3 separate regions of the Homo sapiens genome follow, and all the other regions are linked to region 3. Evidence: fine-mapped expression QTL. A gene starts in region 3. Each other region holds a variant in brackets. All regions are shown on one strand. Distances are from middle to middle.

Region 1 (4,113 bases), 35 kb after region 3:
GGCGTGGTTCAGGATCAGCTGCAGACACAAGTCAGGAACCTGGGCGTGGTTCAGGAGGACATGGTTCATGATTAAGTCCCTACTACACACTCTAGATAGGCCTCCAGCAAAGTTCTTTGCACTAGGCCAGAAACTGGAAGATTTCTTACAAATTTACAACTAGCCTGCCCCAAAATGGGGAGCATAAAATTTAACAAATATTTATACATGAAGTCTTTTTACAGATGATAAGTAGCTGGAGCCAAATGTGTTTTTAAATCAAAAGCTTCCTATAGAAATGGGAGCCCCCATCCAGTGCAAGGGGCAGGGCCTGTGCTGGGGCCGTGTGCAGCATCTGCAGGGCATCGGGGGTCTTGCTGCCTCCCTAGCACAGAGACCCCAACGACCTGTCAGTCAACAGAGACCCCAGCAGCCTGTCGGTCAACAGAGACCCCAGCAGCCTGTCAGTCAACAGAGACCCCAGCGGCCTGTCAGTCAGGTGTGGAGGCTCACAGGGGAGCAGGTTCCTGACCTCACTAGGCAGTCAGAGGGAGCGTGTTAACCCCGACCATCCAAAAGCAAAATCTACGTCCCACTGTCCAGGAAAGGACTTGAGTTTCTTTAAAGAACAAAACAGCAGAACAAACCCAGAAGAACTCCACGGAGTCGGTATCTTCTAACGTGAGTTCCAACTGTTGAAAATGTAATAAAAGCTATGAAAGTAATAAGACGTTTTAGTTTTTCGTGTCATTACCTTAGCTAAAACCTGCTATTTAAAGATTCTTTTATCAGGCAGCCTTGAAATGCAAAATTCAAAGCAGGTGAAGTGACAGAAGAATGCATTTTCGAACACCCTCAGCCGATGTGAAGGCAGCTGCGTCTGGACTCACCCCTTCTCTGCACAACGCTTGTATTTTGGTGGCCCTGAGTCACTGAAACTCTTCCAGGCCTTGGTCCCTTCTGATAAAAGCGTGAGGCTGCGTCTTTTTAGCTAGGATCTCCCGCCCTGTCGCCCAGGCTGGAGTGCAATAGTAGCGCGATCTTGGCTCACTGCAGCCTGGAACTCCTGGGCTTAAGCCATCTTCCAGCCTCGGCCCCAAGGTCACTGGGACTACAGGTGTGCGCCACCACACCTGGCTAATAAAAGAGCAAAGCTTTTATTCTCTATGGATTTGAAAAATCAGCTCCTTTTCCTTTCTCCGTTCAACTAAGGTTATATATTGGGAACATTTTGGGGGTAAATTTATTTCTAGCATTAGCCAATGTGTACAGCGGTTGCTTGGAAGATTTTGGTCACGGAAAGGGGGGCAGGGAGTGTATCCTGCAGCCCACAGAGTGCCCTCTCTCCCTCCCAGCCTCCTTCCTCAGCCCACGGGGTGCCCTCTCTCCCTCCCAGCCAGCTTCCTCAGCCCACGGGGTACCCCCTCTCTCCCAGCCTCCTTCCTGAGCCCACAGGGTGCCTCCTCTCTCTCCCAGCCACCTTCCTCAGCCCACGGGGTGCCCTCCCTCCCTCCCAGCCTCCTTCCTCAGCCCACGGGGTGCCCTCTCTCCCTCCCAGCCTGCTTCCTCAGCCCACGGGGTACCCCCTCTCTCCTAGCCTCCTTCCTCAGCCCACACGGTGCCCCCTCTCTCTCCCAGCCACCTTCCTCAGCCCACGGGGTGCCCTCTCTCCCTCCCAGCCTCCTTCCTCAGCCCACGGGGTGCCCTCTCTCCCTCCCAGCCTCCTTCCTCAGCCCACGGGGTACCCCCTCTCTCCCAGCCTCCTTCCTCAGCCCACACGGTGCCCCCTCTGTCTCCCAGCCACCTTCCTCAGCCCACGGGGTGCCCTCTCTCCCTCCCAGCCTCCTTCCTCAGCCAACGGGGTGCCCTCTCTCCCTCCCAGCCTTCTTCCTCTGGAGTGAAAAGCAAATCTAGACTTCGTACTCTTTTACCTATAAATAGTGTGGACCTCTACCGGGTAAGGGATGATTTAAAAAGATATCAGAGCCACTGGGGCAGCCACACACCTGATGCGGTTGAAGAATGAGCCCTCCAGTACTCTGTCCCCGCCCACCTCCCCCACGGCTCAGATGTCGTTTGTCATGGCCTTTGCTGTGCTTTTATCGTAATGTCAAGGTGGAAAATCACAGACATATTCAAAGGTCGGACGATGTAGGGAGCCCTGGGATGGGCAGTGGGCCCTGAGGGCC[G/A]TCCCACACCCTGTAGCTTTTCATTCCTGTGGATTTCATTAGGCAACGTTGCTCCTTAATGTCTTTAGTGAGATAGAATTCACATACCATAAAACTGCATTTAAAGCAAGCTTGTCCACACGCGGCTCAGGATGGCTTTGAATGAGACCCAACACAAATTCATAAACTTTCTTAAAACATTATGAGTTTTTTTTTTTTTAGCTCATCAGCTGTCACTAGTGTTAGTATATTTTATGTGTGGCCCAAGACAATTTTTCTTCTTCCATTGTGGCCCACGGAAGCCACAAGATTGGACAACCGACAACCCTGACATAAAGTGTACAAGTCAGCGTACATATTCATGGACTCTGAAGCCATCAGCACCACGTTGAAAACATTCTGGCTGGGGCAGTTCACACCTGTCATCCCAGCACTTAGGGAGGTGGAGGCAGGAGGATCGCCTGAGTCTAGGAGTTTGAGACCAGCCAGGGCAACATGGCAAAACCTCTATAGAAAATACAAAAATTAGTGGGGCATCATGGTGTACACCTGTGGTCCCAGCAACTCAGGAGGCTGAGGCGGGAGGACTGCTTCAGCCCAGGAGCTTGAGGTTGTAGTGAGGTTATGCACCGCTGCACTCCAACCTGGGTGATAGAATGAGACCGTGTCTCAAAAAAAAAAAAAAATTCTGATCAACCCCAGGATAAACCTGGCAATCTACCTCCTGTGTCTGTGGACCGGCCTGTTCCGTACATTTCGTGTCCACAAACCACATGCTGTGCCTTCTACGTCAGGTGTGGCACTGAGCACCTGAGGCAGGGCTCCTCATGCGGGCATTGGTGCATCCTGCCCGCCTCTTGCGGGACCATAGGTGGCAGAGGGGGTTTCTTCTAGAGCCCAAGGGTAGGTCTTGCTGTGAGGTGGGGTGGGGTTAGAGAGGTCAGAGGCTGAGGCAGGTGTGGGATGCATTGGTGTTGCTTTCCCGCGGCTCTGCCTCCTCTAGACACCCGTGCTGCTTGCCCACGCCTCTGCTGTCTGAGGGTAAGAAGCGGGTCACAGCATCACTGAAACCCCTTTTGGTTGGGATTCAATAGTAAAGACACAGGCCTTGCCCAGCCTTTCCCACCAATTCCTTTCATTTAAGATCCCTTTTCTAATGAGCTGCGCTCGAGGTCATGTGATGTCCTTAAATTTTCAGATTCCAGAGTATGACATTTGCCGTGGCATTTAATTGATGCTGCAAAAAAATAAGTATTAATTCACTCATTCGCAAAATACATATTTTTTTATTTCTATGGGTACTTAGTAGGTGTATCTTGGAATATGTTTTGGTTGCCTGTTCTGGGCCTGCCTGTGTGTGAGCCGTGGGGAGGGGCTCCTGTTCCCCTAATGCCCAGCGGGCAGGTCCTCCTCGCAGGGCTTCCCTGACCCCACACCGTGCTGGGTGCCAGGGTGGGCTTCACTCAGTGGGGAAACAGTGGGTTTTTGGTTGAAACAAGCCAAAGTGTTAATACTCGTTTCTTCTTTTGTTTTTCAGGTACTCTTTCGGTAAGTGAGATGCATTTAGAGAAAGCTCTGCGAGAGTTGAGCGTTGTGTGTTTGGTATGTATCTTCACGCACTTTTCCTGGCCTCTCCCCTTCCTTAGCCTCTGCCATCAGCCTTCCCAGTATGCACGGAGGGCAGTGATGGGCGCTTGTGATCTGATCCGTGCCTCCTCCCTGGATGTGGGAGCTCCTGGGCTTCCAGGCCCCGGGCACCTAGAGACGGATGGTCGCACGCATGATTGTCGGCATCTCACAGGTGTGATTACCACCGCTTCCCTGGGGCAGAGGGAAAGCACCCACAGGCCCATCCCCCGTGGACGCTCAAGGCTGTGTGCCCCTCGGCATAGAGAAGGTTCACGGTGCTCACGGCACTCACGCTGGTGGGCACTTTGGCTTGTGCTTTGTTTGGTGGAGGGGACCG
Region 2 (4,097 bases), 110 kb after region 3:
GTGACACCACTCACACCCGTCCCGTGACACCACTCACACCCGTCCCGAGACACCACTCACACCCGTCCCGTGACACCACTGCACACCCGTCCCGTGACACCAGTCACACCCGTCCCGAGACACCACTCACACCCGTCCCGAGACACCACTCACACCCGTCCCGTGACACCACTCACACCCGTCCCGTGACACCACTCACACCCGTCCCGAGACACCACTGCACACCCGTCCCGAGACACCACTGCACACCCGTCCCGAGACACCACTCACACCCGTCCCGAGACACCACTCACACCCGTCCCGAGACACCACTGCACACCCGTCCCGAGACACCACTGCACACCCGTCCCGAGACACCACGCACACCCGTCCCGAGTCACCACTGCACACCCGTCCCGAGTCACCACTCACACCCGTCCCGTGACACCACTCACACCCGTCCCGTGACACCACTCACACCCGTCCCGAGACACCACTCACACCCGTCCCGAGACACCACTGCACACCCGTCCCGAGACACCACTCACACCCATCCCGAGACACCACTGCACACCCATCCCGAGACACCACTGCACACCCATCCCGAGACACCACTGCACACCCATCCCGTGACACCACTCACACCCATCCCGTGACACCACGCACACCCATCCCGAGACACCACTCACACCCATCCCGTGACACCACGCACACCCATCCCGAGACACCACTCACACCCATCCCGTGACACCACTCACACCCATCCCGAGACACCACTCACACCCATCCCGAGACACCACTCACACCCATCCCGAGACACCACTGCACACCCATCCCGAGACACCACTCACACCCATCCCGAGACACCACTCACACCCATCCCGAGACACCACGCACACCCATCCCGAGACACCACGCACACCCATCCCGAGACACCACGCACACCCATCCCGAGACACCACGCACACCCATCCCGAGACACCACTGCACACCCATCCCGTGACACCACGCACACCCATCCCGAGACACCACTCACACCCATCCCGAGACACCACTCACACCCATCCCGAGACACCACGCACACCCATCCCGAGACACCACGCACACCCGTCCCGAGACACCACTGCACACCCGTCCCGAGACACCACGCACACCCGTCCCGAGACACCACGCACACCCGTCCCGAGACACCACTCACACCCGTCCCGTGACACCACTCACACCCGTCCCGTGACACCACTCACACCCGTCCCGTGACATCACTCACACCCGTCCCGTGACACCACTCACACCCGTCCCGAGACACCACTCACACCCGTCCCGTGACACCACTCACACCCGTCCCGTGACACCACTCACACCCGTCCCGAGACACCACTCACACCCGTCCGGTGACACCACTCACACCCGTCCCGAGACACCACTCACACCCGTCCCGTGACACCACTGCACACCCATCAAAACGGCTGGAATAAAAGTAGCAACAACCCCACATGCTGGCAAAGATACCAAGAAATCGAGTCACTCGGCTGTTGCTGGGAGGGTAAAATGGCTCCTCAAAAAGGACACCCGAAGTTGCAGTGGACTCAGCAGCTGCTTCCATGGACGTTTAAGCCAGAGAGTTGAAACCCAGGTTCACGCAGAAACCCGTGCAGAGGTTTACGGCAGCCGTCACAGACAAAAACTGCAAAGAGCTCAGCTGTCCTTCCACAAGAGAGCGACCGCACAAACTAGGGTGCACTCACGCCGCAGACGCCGGTCAGCGACGAGGAGGAAGGAAGCCTCCATCACACGACCTGGCGGAACCTGAGAATTGGCGTGAGAATCGCCTGCCCCGC[G/A]GGTACGTGCCGCAGGGTTCCACTCATTCTTGAAATCATACGTTCTTGAAATCACACAAGGAGGCCGAAGGTCGGGGAGGGTGTGGAAGGACACGGGGGTCCGGGCGTGGATGGGACCCGTGTCTGTGGCCTCAGTGTCAGGCCCTGGCTGCAATCCCTACTATAGCTGTGCAAGATGCCCAGCTGTTGCCAGTAGGGTCTATTTCAAAAGGGCTGGGAGATCCCCTATTTTCAACACTCTCAAGCCCTCCGGGGCGGTGCCATGGCCTTCTCGGGTACTTTGTCTGCAGGAATGAAATGCAACCCTTCAGGCCGCTGGGGCCTGGGGCCCCTTCCCACCAACCTGCCAGTTGGCACAGAGGGTTCTGACCCTTTCCAAAACCCTTTCCAAACTGCAGTTCCAGCTCTTGATGTCAGAGACCAGGCCCTGGGCCCCCTAGGCCTTGACCCTGTCCTGGGAAGGAGCAGAAAGCAAGAGCAGGAATTTGGGAAAGATGGGCAATCCCACTGCAGGAGGCCTTCCCAGGATCCCCACCCTCCCGGCCTCACTAAATGCAGGGTTTGGGAGAGGGTGGGCCTGCCTGGGGACTGCATTGCCCTAGCAAGGCCCAGGAGAGTGTGCAGGGACCATGCTGCCCGCACAGCCCAGCGCCCTCACGGCCGCATTCCAGCCCGTCCCTTCAGTCTGCTGCTGAGCTGCTCAGAGGTCGACCTCGGGGTCCAGTGTGACTTCTCTGCCTGGCACCACCTGGCCTCAGTCCCCATGCTGGCCGCTGCCGTCCTTATAGCCAAGGAAAACCATGGCAGCCTCAGGCCCAAGGGGTCCAGGAAAGACCCCTGGGGCCCAGGGCAGTGGGCAGTGCCCTCCTGGAGTGGACGGGAGCCACCAACTGCCAGCATCACCCTCAGTCTTGGCTGCCCGGGAGGTTTTCCAAAGGCCCGACCCCACTCCTCTTGGAGCTGCTGATCCCTCTCTCCCATCAGGCGCCTCAGGGACCCTCCTCCACCCAGAGGGTCTCTGTCTTCCCGGTTTTCCTGGCGTAATTCAGACTTGGGGAGAGAAGAATCATCATCCATCACACACCCAGACCCAAAGAGACTCAAAGCCAGGAGGAGCCGGGTGGACCCAGAGGCCCTCACCCTGCCAGCCTAAGGGGCATGGCCCAAGGTCTCCACCCCCAGCCCCCAGAGCACAGCTGTGTGCAGGTCACCAGAAGCCCCAAATAATGACAGCAGCCCAGACAGTCGCTACCGGGCCCTGGTGCAGTGTGAAGCCTCTGGCACCTGCCTGGGCTCATTCCAGGGGCCATGAGAGGGTCCTGTTATGGCTGCACCATCACACCCACCGGGCAGCTGGGGCCCAGCTCTGCCATGGATCCCAGCCAGGCAGCAGCCGCCCTGTGGGCTGAGAAGCTTCCGCTCCTGCTGCACAACTGCGAAGGGGCCTGGAGGGCCGGGAGCTTGTGACGGTGACAATTCCTCCTGGCGCCTCCTCCTCCGGGGCAGCCGAGCAACCCTGGACATGAGGGGGCTTCGTCCCACCCCCAGGAGAAAATGCCCAGTCCTCCGAGAGTCCAGTGAGGGCTTGCCAGCCAGGGACCAAGACCCAGTATGGCCTAAACCAGGCCTGGTCACCAGGGGTCAGGCGGGACCTTATACAGGGCTCAGCAGAGAGACCTGCCCGCTACCCTGCTCCAGGGGAGATGGGGGTGGGGGCCTTCATCCCACTCGGGCATGACAGAGGAGAGCAGCCAGCCAGCATCTGCACGTCTCAGGCAGGGAAGGGCCTGAAGCCCTGGGAAGCAGAGGCTCCGCCCTCAGGAAACAGGTCCCGGCCTGGCTCCCTCACAGCCTCGGACTGCCCCGTGGACCGAAACCCCCAGGCACCTTGCGCCAGGACTGGCCTGATGGTGGAGACGCCACACCATGAGCAGTAGGTTCCTCTCCCCACCTTCCCAGGCGGGGGACACTTGGGGCTCAAACTGGGGCCTTGTGAACGGTCTCAGGCTTGCTCAGTGCCACCCGTGAAGCTCCTGGCCTTCCCCGGGCCGGTCCCTCTGCCAAGTGGGCCCTGCTGGGTCTCCCCTCCCGGAGCTGCCCCCCGTCCGCCCTTCCCCCTTGCTGCGCTGTTCACTGCTGAGGGTGCCGACTGGAACAGTTGCCCTGCCCGGGGTCTGCTGGGGGTCTACCTGTGCTCAGGGTGGGGGCTCCTCATGCAGCCCCTCTGTCCGTGGGGGACCCTGTGAGCAGCTGCAGCTCAGCAGCAGGCTGAGGAGCCGG
Region 3 (4,113 bases):
TGAGGGAAACTTGAGCTCAGAGAGAACAGGAGCTCCCAGCAGACCCTTCCGCTGACTGCTCCCACCCTGGGCAAATGCAGAGCCGGAGCCCGGAGCGCTGGAAGCTGGAACAAGAGGCCCTTTTCTGCTCTGCACAATGCCCCATTGTGCCCTTCGCGGGGAGAGCAGCTCGGCCCAGCGAGGGGAAGCTGTGCACAAAGCCTCCTTGTGAGGGCAGCCCCACCTGAGGACAGCGCAGGGCCACACCTGACGCAGGGCAGTCCCTCTCGCCGTCCGTCCCCTAGCAGGCCTGGCACCCAGACAGGGCCCGCTCTGCAGGCGTGGTCCCAGGGTGTGGGGCTCCCTGTTCCCCACAGATGAGGGGAACAGTGTGGGCTGTGCCGGCCCTTCCTAAGCTGGCCCCCAGGTCACGAGGAGAGGTACGGGTCGTGGGCTCTGTGGAGGGACTTGGGTGCCGGGCGCCAGCCAGGGCCGATGCCTCCTGCGATCCCCAAGGCTCCGAGCCCTCAGGCACACACCACGCTCCCGGAGGCTGGGCCAGCATGCGGAGGATGTTTGTGTGTTCGTACCCGTTGCAACATCTTTAACAGGGTCCCATTTCACAGCTGGGCTCCTAAGGGGGGTTTCATAGAAAAGAAATGGAAACTAAAAATGAATTAAACCATAAGATGTACACGTATGCTACGGCCCCAGCAACACAGGGAAGGTGGAGGCTGAGAGGAAGCTCGGGCCACTGCTGGTCAGGCCTGGATTTGGGGGCCCGATGTCCACAGTCAGTCCCTGCCCACACAAGGCTCACACTGCAGGTGGTGAAGATATAATTAAACAGGTAATTAAACAAGCAATAAAGACGGGTCATTTGACCAACCCAGTGGCGATAATTGATACGCCAAAACACTAGGAAAGCTAGAGAGGCAAAAGAGAAGAATACATGAAAACAAAAACAAAAAACCAGGACAAATATTTCCAATATACACAAAAGAACAGGATTTTTCATACGTAAAGAGTGCTGACAAATGAATAAGGAGAAATCTGCACTTCCACCTAAGTGCCCCACAGTTTATTCACTAACCCCTAGGTCTCCAATGCCTACTCTAGCCTCACGCCCTTTCTTTCCTCTAAGGAATGCCTGTGACCCCAGCCCTTCCTAGCACCCGCTTCACATCAGCCTCCAGAACCCCGCTCCAGTCATCAGAGTGTAGAGTGCTGGCGTCCTCCTTCATGTTCTGTTTGGGGCATTGGGCAGTTAGCCCTTCCCTCCTGAGTCCTGAGTCCCCCTCTTCCCCCACAGCTTGAAGTCCAGTCCCAAGGGCAGGCAGGAGCTGGGTTGTGCAAAGGCGGAAGGGTGCTCAGGCTGGGAGAAAGGGGAGGGTCCCCCGAGCATTCCAGGCACAGCCCTGCCTACTCTGTCCCTTGCTGGCTGCGACGATCGCCCTAGCACCCTCCTCCGCAGAGAGTGAGTGTCAGCTGTGAGGCAGGGGCACGCAGTGGTAGCACCGCCAGGGCCTGTGCAGCCCACCTTCCCCAGGACCACAGCTGGGAAGGCGCCTGGCTGGGGGAGGGCACCTGGCCTCTGCAACTCGGACTGACGGAAGGCACGCGTGCCTGCCCCAGTGAGCTCGGGTCGGGCGACGCGCACCACCTCCCAGGTACCCGGCCCCGCGCCCTACCCGCAGCAGCGCCCAGCGAGAACTGCGAAGGAGGCAGGCTCCGGGCACCCGCTCCCGCGCGTGGGCGGGGCCGGCTGGAGGGGGCGGTGCCTCCGGGACTGTGAGCGGGGCCTCCCGGGGTGTGGGTGGGGCCTTCGGCCGTGGGCAGGGCCGGCCAGGGAGAGGCGGGGCCTCCGAGAATGGGCGGGGCCTCCGAGAATGGGCGGGGCCTCCGGGAGTGCGCCCTCCCCGCACATGCGCCCTGACAGCCCAACAATGGCGGCGCCCGCGGAGTCGCTGAGGAGGCGGAAGACTGGGTACTCGGATCCGGAGCCTGAGTCGCCGCCCGCGCCGGGGCGTGGCCCCGCAGGCTCTCCGGCCCATCTCCACACGGGCACCTTCTGGCTGACCCGGATCGTGCTCCTGAAGGCCCTAGCCTTCGTGTACTGTGAGTGCCGGGCGGGCCCGGGACATCCGCCAGTGTCACCTCCGCGCACCACGACCCCCGCCCTCCCTCGAGACTCCTCCGCGCGGTCTCGCGGCCGCGGCGCCCCCACGCAGCCCTCCTTCCTGCTGGGGCCCGGGCAAGGCGGGGCGGGCAGGGCAGGACAAGGCTTGCTGGCGACAGCGCACCCGGCCCTACCCCTGTCGCCGCCTCGAGCCTCCGGCCTGGGCTCCTGGGCTCCCGGTTCCACCCGCAGCCCCGAAGTTGCACGGCCGCGCCTGCCAGGACCGGCTCGGGGCTATGCGAGGCGGGGCCGGCCCGGGCCCTGGCCCAGGAGTTCCCAGGAGAGCTGGGCAGGTGGAGGGTCACCCGTCCGTGCGCAGGTCGGGGGTCTGCGTCCTGGCTGCGGGGCGGGGGGCGGCCTGGAGAGGCGAGGCGCTCCTGCTGTCCCCGACACAGCGCTGTGCTGACGGTGAAGGTTCCCACTGTAACTGGACGCCCGCACGCCACATCCCTGCCGCGTGCGGCCCCTGCCAAAATCCGAGGAGCCGGCCCGGGAGCCTCCTTCGCGTCTCCCAGGGGCTGAGGGAAGGTGACTGGCTGGTGGCCAGACTGGAGTTTCTCCTTTAGTGTTCTCGACTAGCTCAGTCTGCGTTCGGGAAGATTCCCAGCGGAGGTCTGGGGGCAGCTCCGGAACCTCATCTGCAAGTGAAGCCTGCGCCTCACTGTGGGATGTGGTTGGCCGGGTCCACTGGCGGAGACCCTTCACCCCACAGCTGTGCGGGGCCCGCGTGCGCAGCCTACAGAGCAGAGCTCTGAGAAAAGTCAGTTCACGCTCAAAACCTCTGGATCCCCTGGCCAGGGGCAGCTGGCGATTCCAACTCCCTCTCTCCCCAGTCCCTACAACCCAGAACTGGTTTGGAAGAGAACGGTTCTGTGATCACGGTGACATGTGATCACACGGATACATGTTTCATAAGCCCAACGTGTCAGGAGCTACGAACCTCAAGTGAGGCTCTCAAATGAGTATGGAAGTGAGGGGAGCCTGCCAGGCCGAGATGCAGCCAGCGGGGCGCGTGGGCAGTCACCGTCCCAGAGGGCTCCGGAGCTGCTGGCCCCGGGCGTTGCCCACGCGTTGGTTGTAGGCCGTGGGCATTGGACGTCTCCCTTTCCTTCCATCGTCTGCTTCCCTCACGTGTGGAAGGAAAGGGTCAGGTTGCAGAAGTTCTTCTTTGCACAGCCTTTGTGCCACACACGTCGCGGGAAGTTTGGTAGCCTGGTTGTGCTGGAGTGATGCTCAGTTCGACGTTTTGTGTGACATTTGTGTGATACTTTCCACCTCCTGGTGCAAAGTGATGAGACGCGCTCATCACTACAAGGTTTCCTGTGGGATTGCAGTATCGGCTTCAACTGGGTCTGTGTCTCTCTCTCTCTTTCTTTAAAGCAACTATTTTATTTTATTTATTTATTTTTTTCGAGACGGAGTCTCACTCTGTTGCCCAGGCTGGAGCGCAACGGCACCATGTCGGCCCACTGCAACCTCCGTCTCCTGGGTTCAAGCGATTCTCCTGCCTCAGCCTTCCGAGTAGCTGGGATTATAGGCACGCACCACCATGCCTGACTAATTTTTAAAAATATTTTTAGTAGAGACAGGGTTTCACCATGTTGGCCAGGCTGGTCTCGAACTTCTGACCTCAGGGCCTCCCAAAGTGCTGGGATTACAAGCGTGAGCCACTATGCCCGGCCTGCAATTATTTTAAAAAGTAGTTCTTCCCAGGTTGCTTTTCCCTCCACAGTATTAAACAGTCATTTTAAATGTTGGTGCTGTCACTTAGCAAACGATGAAGTAGAGATAAAGTGAAGCTGTGAGGCTCTAATAGGCCTTCCACAGGGGAGCCCGAGATACAGCAGGAAGTCCCAGCGGCCTTGCCTCCGGAGCACAGCTTCATAAAACCAGCTCAGACTCTTTCAAACGAGCTGAGGCTCCTTTGATCTCCGCAGGGATTCTCTGTTCAATTC

What was found. PIP is the estimated chance that this variant, and not a neighbour inherited with it, causes the effect.
Region 1: its variant is fine-mapped to the expression of LMF1 in whole blood (INTERVAL, PIP above 0.99).
Region 2: its variant is fine-mapped to the expression of LMF1 in whole blood (TOPMed, PIP above 0.99).

Annotation. Positions count from the first base shown.
Region 1 is chr16:933,826-937,938 of GRCh38, reverse strand. It overlaps LMF1 (lipase maturation factor 1), which reads left to right. Exons shown (of 11, transcript NM_022773.4): 3 at 3,685-3,695. It overlaps LMF1-AS1 (LMF1 antisense RNA 1), which reads right to left. Exons shown (of 2, transcript NR_110946.1): 2 at 3,415-4,113. Among named protein-coding and RNA genes, the nearest start is that of LMF1-AS1, 15 kb to the right of the region's middle. The variant G/A (reference allele first, on the strand shown) is at 2,169.
Region 2 is chr16:854,760-858,856 of GRCh38, reverse strand. All of the region lies in intron 10 of LMF1 (lipase maturation factor 1), which reads left to right. Among named protein-coding and RNA genes, the nearest start is that of GNG13, 56 kb to the right of the region's middle. The variant G/A (reference allele first, on the strand shown) is at 1,818.
Region 3 is chr16:968,772-972,884 of GRCh38, reverse strand. It overlaps LMF1 (lipase maturation factor 1), which reads left to right and starts at 1,901. Exons shown (of 11, transcript NM_022773.4): 1 at 1,901-2,097. The coding sequence starts at 1,905. RefSeq lists enhancers at 1-722, 2,705-3,696 and a silencer at 1,490-2,659.